Homo sapiens: one gene and its partner. The protein of the gene in region 1 purifies or fractionates together with the protein of each later gene. This does not show direct contact. Each region holds a gene or a part of one and is shown in the gene's direction. Other genes may lie near its edges. The genes, in order: TMEM161A and HTR2C.

Region 1 (3,829 bases):
TTGAACCCAGGAAGCGGAGGTTGTGGTGAGCCAAGATCGAGCCATTGTGCTCCAGCCTGAGCAACAAGAGTGAAACTCCGTCTCAAAAAAAAAAAAAAAAAAAAAATGTAGGCCAGGTGTGGTGGCTCACATGTGTAATCCCAGCACTTTGGGAGGCCAAGGCAGGCGGATCACAAGGTCAGGAGATCAAGACCATCCTGGCTAACATGGTGAAACCCTGTCTCTACTAAAAATACAAAAAATTAGCTAGGCTAATGGCACACGCCTATAGTCCCAGCTACTTGGGAGGCTGAGGCAGGAGAATGGCGTGAACCTGGTAGGCGGAGCTTGCAGTGAGCTGAGATCGCGCCACTGCACTCCAGCCTGGGCGACAGAGCAAGAGTCCATCTCAAAAAAAAAAAAAAAAAAAAAGTCTATTTAGATGTCGTGCAACCATCACCACCGTCCATCTCCACAACTCTTTGCTCTTGCAAAACTGAAACTCCAGCCCATCAAACACTAACTCCCTGTTCCTCCTTCTTGCAGCCCCTGACACCCACCATTTTACGTCCTGTCTCTGTGAATGTGACCACTCTGGGTTCCTCATATAAGTGGCATCATACAGTATTTGTCCTTTTGTGACGTGCTCATTTCAGTTAGCACAATGTCCTCAAGGCATATCCATGTTGTAGCAGGTGTTAGAATTTTTTTTTCTTTTTTTGAGACAGGATCTCACTCTGTCACCGAGGCTGGAGTGCAGTGGTGCAATCACAACTCACTGCAGCCTTGATCTCCAGGGCTCAAGTGATCCTCCCACCTCAGCCTTCCAAGTAGCTGGGACCACAGGCACATGCCACCACACCTGGCTAATTTTTAATTTTTTTTTTTTTTTCTGTAGAGATGGGGTCTTGCTATGCTTCTCAGGCTGGTCTCAAACTCCTGGCCTCGAGCAGTCCTCTCACCTCCGCCTCCCAACGTGCTGGGATGACAGGCGTGAGCCACTGGGCCCAGCCAGAATTCCATTTTTAAGACTGAACACTGCCAGGCACGGTGGCTCACGCCTGTAATCCCAGCATTTTGGGAGGCCAAGGCGGGCGGATCACGAGGTCAGGAGATCGAGACCATCCTGGCTAACATGGTGAAACTCCGTCTCTACTAAAAAAAATACAAAAAATTAGCCGGGTGTGGTGGCGGGTACCTGTAGTCCCAGCTACTCGGGAGGCTGAGGGAGGAGAATGGTGTGAACCCAGGAGGCGGCGCTTGCAGTGAGCTTAGATAGTGCCACTGCACTCCGGCCTGGGTGAAAGAGCAAGACTCCATCTCAAAAAAAAAAAAAAAAAAAAAGACTGAACACTATTTCATTGTCTGGGTGGAACACATTTTGTTTATTCATCCACAGATGAATGCTTGGGTTGTTCCCAACTTTTGGCTTTTTGACTAATACCGCTGTGAACCTGAGTGTACAGGTATCTCTTTGAGACCCCATTTTCAGTTTTGGAGAGTATATATCCAGAAGTGGAACTGCTGGATTATATGATAATTCTACTTTTAATTTTTTGAGGGACTGCCATACTGTTTTATACAGCAGCTGAACCATTTTATTTTATTTTTGAGACAGAGTCTCATTCTGTTGCCCTGGCTGGAGTGCAGTGGTGGCGTGATCTCCACTCACTGCAACCTTTGCCTCCCGGATTCAAGTGATTCTCATGCCTCAGGCTCCCAAGTAGCTGGGACTACAGGCTCCCACCACCACACCCAGCTAATTTATTTTTTTATTTTTATTTTTATTTTTTGAGACAGTCTCCCTCTGTCACCCAGGCTAGAGTACAGTGGCATGATCTTGGCTCACTGCAACCTCCACCTTCCAGGCTCAAGTGATTCTCTTGCCTCAGCCTCCCAAGTAGCTGGGATTACAGGTGTGCGCCACCACACCTGGCTAATTTTTGCATTTTTAGTAGAGATGGGGTTTTGCCATGTTGGCCAGGCTGGTCTTTAACTCCTGACCTCAGGTGATCCTGCCCATCTTGGCCTCCCAAAGTGCTGAGATTACAGGTGTGAGCCACCACATCTGGCTACACCCAGATAATTTTTGTGTTTTTAATAGAGACAGATTTTGCCATGTTGCCCAGGCTAGTCTTGAACTCTTGAACTCAAGCAATCGCCAGCCTCGGCCTTCCAAAGTGCTGGGATTACAGGTGTGCACCACTGTGCTCAGCCCATTTTATATTTTATATTCCCAGCAGCAGTGCACAAGTGTTCCAAATTTATCCACTTCATTGCCAATACTTCTTTTGTTTTCATTTGACCACTATTTGCATTATTTTCCGTCTGCATACATGCATCACACTTTCTTTGCTGAGTCGTCAAATGTAGTTGTAAGTGTCACCTCTAGTGTCTTGATGAATGGAAGTTGATTATTTTAGTTGATATTTGTCTTGAAAAATATCCTTCCCTAAAATCAGAAAGTCATTCTACATTGTCTTTTTTTTTTTTTTTGAGACAGAGTCTCGCTCTTTCCCCCAGGCTGGAGTGCAGTGGGCGATCTCTAGTATTTTTTACTAGAGATGGGGTTTCACTATGCTGACCAGGCTGGTCTTGAACTCCAGACCTCAGGCAATCCACCCGCCTCAGCCTCCCAAAGTGCTGGGATTACAGGCGCGAGCCACCGTGCCCGGCCTACTTTTTGTATTTTTTACTAGAGATGGGGTTTCACCACGTTGACCAGGCTGGTCTTGAACTCCAGACCTCAGGCAATCCACCTGCCTCAGCCTCCCAAAGTGCTGGGATTACAGGCGCTTGCCACCACGCCTGGCTGAAATATTTTAGAAGAAAATATAGAATGACTGGCCAGGGGTGGTGGCTCATGCCTGTAATCCCAGCACTTTGGGAGGCCGAGATGGGCACATCACGAGGTCGGCAGATCGAGACCATCCTGGCTAACACCGTGAAACCCCGTCTCTACTAAAAATACAAAAAATTAGCCAGGCGTGGTGGCAGGCGCCTGTAGTCCCAGCTACTGGGGAGGCTGAGGCAGGAGAATGGCGTGAACCCGGGAGGTGGAGCTTGCAGTGAGCCAAGATCGCGCCACTGCACTCCAGCCTGGGCAACAGAGCGAGACTCCGTCTAAAAAAAAAAAAAAAAAAAAAGCTGGGCAAGGTGGCATGCACCTGTAATCCCAGCTACTCGGGAGGCTGAGGCAGGAGAATCACTTGAACCCCGGAGGCAGAGGTTGCAGTGAGCCGAAATCACGCCATTGCACTCTAGCCTGGGCGACAAGAGCAAGACTCCATCTTAAAAATCAATAAATAAAATATTTCAACTTTTACATTTCATATAAGCTCCTAAACTACTCACTGTTGCTGATGGACAGTGACATTAATTTTTGTGTTATCATATAGGGGTCAAATTTGAGTGTCTCCACGGACTAACCTTGCTAAACAATTATATTTTTATTGAATTGCAGATTCTTTTTGGTTTTCTTTTGTTCTGTCTGATCCTTCCCCTTTGGTGTGGCTAGGACCTCTGGATTTGAGAACAGTACTGGCGTACCTCCTTTTCTTGTTTCCAATTTCTCAGTTAGCTACTTGGCTCATAAATTTTCAATCTTTTCTAATTTTATAGCATATATAGCATTTAATGCTATATATATTTTACCAGGTCTCACTTTTGTTCACCTAAGTTTTTTTTTGTTTTTGTTTTTGTTTTGAGATGGAGTTTTGCTCTTGTCACCCAGGCTGGAGTGCAACTGTGCAATCTCAGCTCACTACAACCTCTGCCTCCTGGGTTCAAGCAATTCTTCTGCCTCAGCCTCCTGAGTAGCTGGGATTACAGGTGCACGCCACCACGCCTG
Region 2 (3,829 bases), on another chromosome or scaffold:
GCTTACAAAGGAAATACACAGACAGAATATTGTTGCATCAGCTTCTAGTAATGAAAGACTGAGTAATTTGCAATGACTCTTGTGCTAAAGGCAAATAAACACATGGATAAAACACTAAAAGCCCTAAGAAGCTAATGAAATAGAAATTGCTATTGGCTAAGATCCAGAAAAAGACAAAAACCCAAGAAAAATGATTATGACTTCTAGTTCACTTTTGCCAATGATGCATTATAAACCTGAAGATATGACTGACAGGTGGAGACGATCATTTCAGACTCGCAAGCAATGGAGGACTAGAGTAGGAATACAGAGTCTGGCAAGGGCCAACCAACCTGAATTTAATTCTGGGATCACAAAAAAACCAGACACTAGGAATAAGGATCGACCAGGATTAAATCACCATAGACATGGAATTCAGCCCTGGTTCAAGTCATCTATGTAAATGAGAGAAATCTTGGGCCTTAAAATTGGATTAAGATGATTTCGTATTATTCAGGTTTCCAATTTTGGGGCATAAACAAACAAAAAAAACCCCATAATCCTAGATTTCAACTTATTTCTTTCAATAATTTTCAAATGCTGTCACTGAAATACAATGATATGCAGATATATGAGGAGACAATACAACATGAATCAGGTATGGGACAATAAGAGATAACAGAAATAAACTTACAAACACTTCAGATAATTGAATTATCAGACATACACTTTAAATAATCATTTGGAATGTGCACATGGAAATTACATGCTGATCTTAAACACTTCAGCAAGAAACTGCAAACTATAACAAATGACATTAAGATTTGAGAAACACCTAGAAAATATGGAACTTAAGCATAATATGAAAAACTAAGGGCCAGGCAGTGTCTTACACCTGTAATTCCAGCACTTTGGGAGGCCGATGCAGGCGGATCACTTGTGGCCAGGAGTTCAAGACTAGCCTGGACAACATGATGAAACCCCATCTCTACTAAAAATACAAAAATTAGCCAGGTATGGTAGCACACGCCTGTAATCCCAGCTACTTGGGAGGCTGTGGTGGGAGGATCACTTGACCCTCAGAGGTCAAGTCTGCAGTGAGCTGAGATCATGCCACTGCGCTCCAGCCTGGGCAACAGAGTGAGACTCTGTCACACACACAAAAAAAATTAATTAATTAAAAAATGAAAACCTAAGAACTCTGTGGCAGATTAGAGATGGCGAATTTCCAAATTTACAGAAGATTATTATAAAATATTAAAAATTAGCTGGGTATGGTGGCATGTGCCTGTAGCCCTAGCTACTCAGAAGGTTGAGGCAGGAGCATCACTTGAACTCAAGTGTCTTGAGGTTGCAGTGAGCTATGATCGTGCTATGACACTTCAGCCTTGATGAGAAAGCAACACTTTGTCTCTACAAATAAAAGATAAAATGAAATAATAAGATAAATCCAAAAGGAGTCAATAAAAGATAGAAAAATATAAAACGTATACTGAATGGCAGAATTAAAACCAAATATATCCCTAATTATATGAATTACTAAGGATTCTAAGACTGTCATATAGGCTTTCAAAAAAATAAGACAACTATATGTTACAAGAGGCATATATAAAGCATAAAGAAAGTAAAAGGATAAAAACAAACAAAAAAATTCCTCCATCTAAACACTATCCAAGAGAAAGACTGTATAGCTATATTAATATTTGTCAAAATAGACTTTTCGGCAAAAAACAAATACTCCAGTGAAAGAAGATTACTTACTATGAAAGATTTAATACATCTGGAAGACATAAGGTAATAAATTTGTATGTACATAATTATATGTAGATACATATGTAATATACATAGTATATACATTATAAAGTAAAAGAGGACAGAACTTCAGGGACAGATAGACAAGTCTACAATCATCGCATAAGATCTTAGCACATCCTTCTCAGCGATTGTATGAAAACAATTAACAAACCTGAACTCACTGACAAGTGAAGAATACATATTCCCATCATTGCACAAGAAATATTTATCAAAACTGACCATAAAGTAATTCCTCAACACATTCCAAAGGGTTGGAATAAATTGTTTATTCTTTGACTGAAATTCAAAAGAAATAGAAATGACTTCAAAATAGTAGAAAAACCTTCGTATATTTGGAAATTAAGAAATTGTTTCCCAATAAACTTTGACCTAATGGATTTCAAATCCATTGATGATTCTTCCCTAAGCTATCTATTACTAAGGTGATACAATGATAATTTTTCTCATTTTATTATTCTTCCTGCCTTTATTTGTTGGTATTATACTGTAAGGAAGTGTTTTCCCTCCAAGTCTTTGTTATTTATTAGTTCATGTTGGTGGAGACTCCTGGATTCTTTTGTATTCAGTGTAATATATATGATTCATTATTGCCCTTAATTATTTTGATGCTCAAATTGTCTCATATTTTTCTAATAAGAACTCCTTTTCATATATCCCATCAGCTTTTGAGCATTTGCCAGACTCACCTTTTACTTTCCATGCCCCAGTTCCGAAATTAGCCATTTCTTACAAGAAACCCTTTTAGTGGGCAATGGTTTTATAAAGCAGGATGCAGAAGCTCAGTATGCTCATTGCTAATAGGATATCATTGCTCCTATATATCAATACCTTTAATCCCAATTCACGAACACAGGACTCTTGCTACTTTCCAATTCTTTATTTTTCCTCATTTTTCTCACAGTGAGTAACTTTGTCCCCAAACCATTGATATATTTATTATTTATATTTTCTATATCCTACCATACAAGAAATTAATTTCAGAATTTCTATACCCATACCACTACCAATAAATGAAATGCAATGTTTAAAATTTCATTGCAATTTTATCTTTAGAATGTTTTCCACCAATGGCATATAGTCAAAGCATTGTCTTCAAAATGCTAGGATTAGTTTGAATTTTTTTTCTCTGTGGTTCTGATACCAATTGTTCACATTTAGGGATTTTGTTTTGTTTTTGCATGTATTCCCCAACCTTGTTGACTTTATTTTTTAATATGTAAAACTTTAATATGATGCTCCAACAGTCAAAACTAGGCAAATAAAATACTCAGAGAAGAGTCAGTTCCTCTTCTATTCCGTGGTTAACCCATTCATTAGTTTCTAGGGCATACTTCTTGAATTTATTTTTGCAAAAAAAAAAAAGATTATACACAAATACACGTATTGTTATTTTTCCATTCTTAAATTAAAAGTTAAAATGCTACATACAAATTAATACTTTGTTTTGCTTTGTTCTTTTACTTGGAAATATGTCCTGGAAATCACTCTATCAATTTGTAAGATGATAGATATGCACCCAACTTTATCATGTAAATGGCCTAAATACTCCAATTAAAAGCTAAATTCATTCTATTATTTTTTACACTCACTAATAATAGATTGTGTTGATATACTTTATTTAACCAATCTTCTGTGTATAATCAGGTAAGTTGTTTCCAACATTTGGAAGTTGCCAATAATTCTACTAAGAATAATTGTGTGTGTGTGTGTGTGTGTGTGTGTGTCCTTTGTGTGTGCGTGCGTGCATGTGTGTCTGTCTTGTGTGTTTGTGTGCGCGCGCGCGTGCATGTGTGTGTTTCATATTATTGGAAGTTTAACTTTTAAATAAATTCTTGCTCAAATGTATTCAGAATTTATCTTCTAAATAAATTCTTAGAGGAGGAGTTGATTGATCAAAGGGTACATGTAGTTAGGAGTTGAACCATTTTGCATTCCCACCAGCAATGCAAGAAAGCCTCTGTTTCCCCAAAGCCTTGCTAATGAAGTTTATTTTCAAACTTTTTAGATTTTGCAAATCCCATAAGTGAGAAATGTT

What was found.
Region 2: the proteins of TMEM161A (region 1) and HTR2C purify together in Homo sapiens (co-immunoprecipitation; one large-scale study listed by IntAct). This does not show direct contact.

The regions. Positions count from the first base shown.
Region 1 is NC_000019.10:19,124,811-19,128,639, reverse strand, and holds part of TMEM161A (transmembrane protein 161A isoform 1 precursor), read left to right. Parts: intron 1-3,829. UniProt on the Homo sapiens protein: May play a role in protection against oxidative stress. Overexpression leads to reduced levels of oxidant-induced DNA damage and apoptosis.
Region 2 is NC_000023.11:114,849,275-114,853,103, forward strand, and holds part of HTR2C (5-hydroxytryptamine receptor 2C isoform a precursor), read left to right. Parts: intron 1-3,829. UniProt on the Homo sapiens protein: G-protein coupled receptor for 5-hydroxytryptamine (serotonin).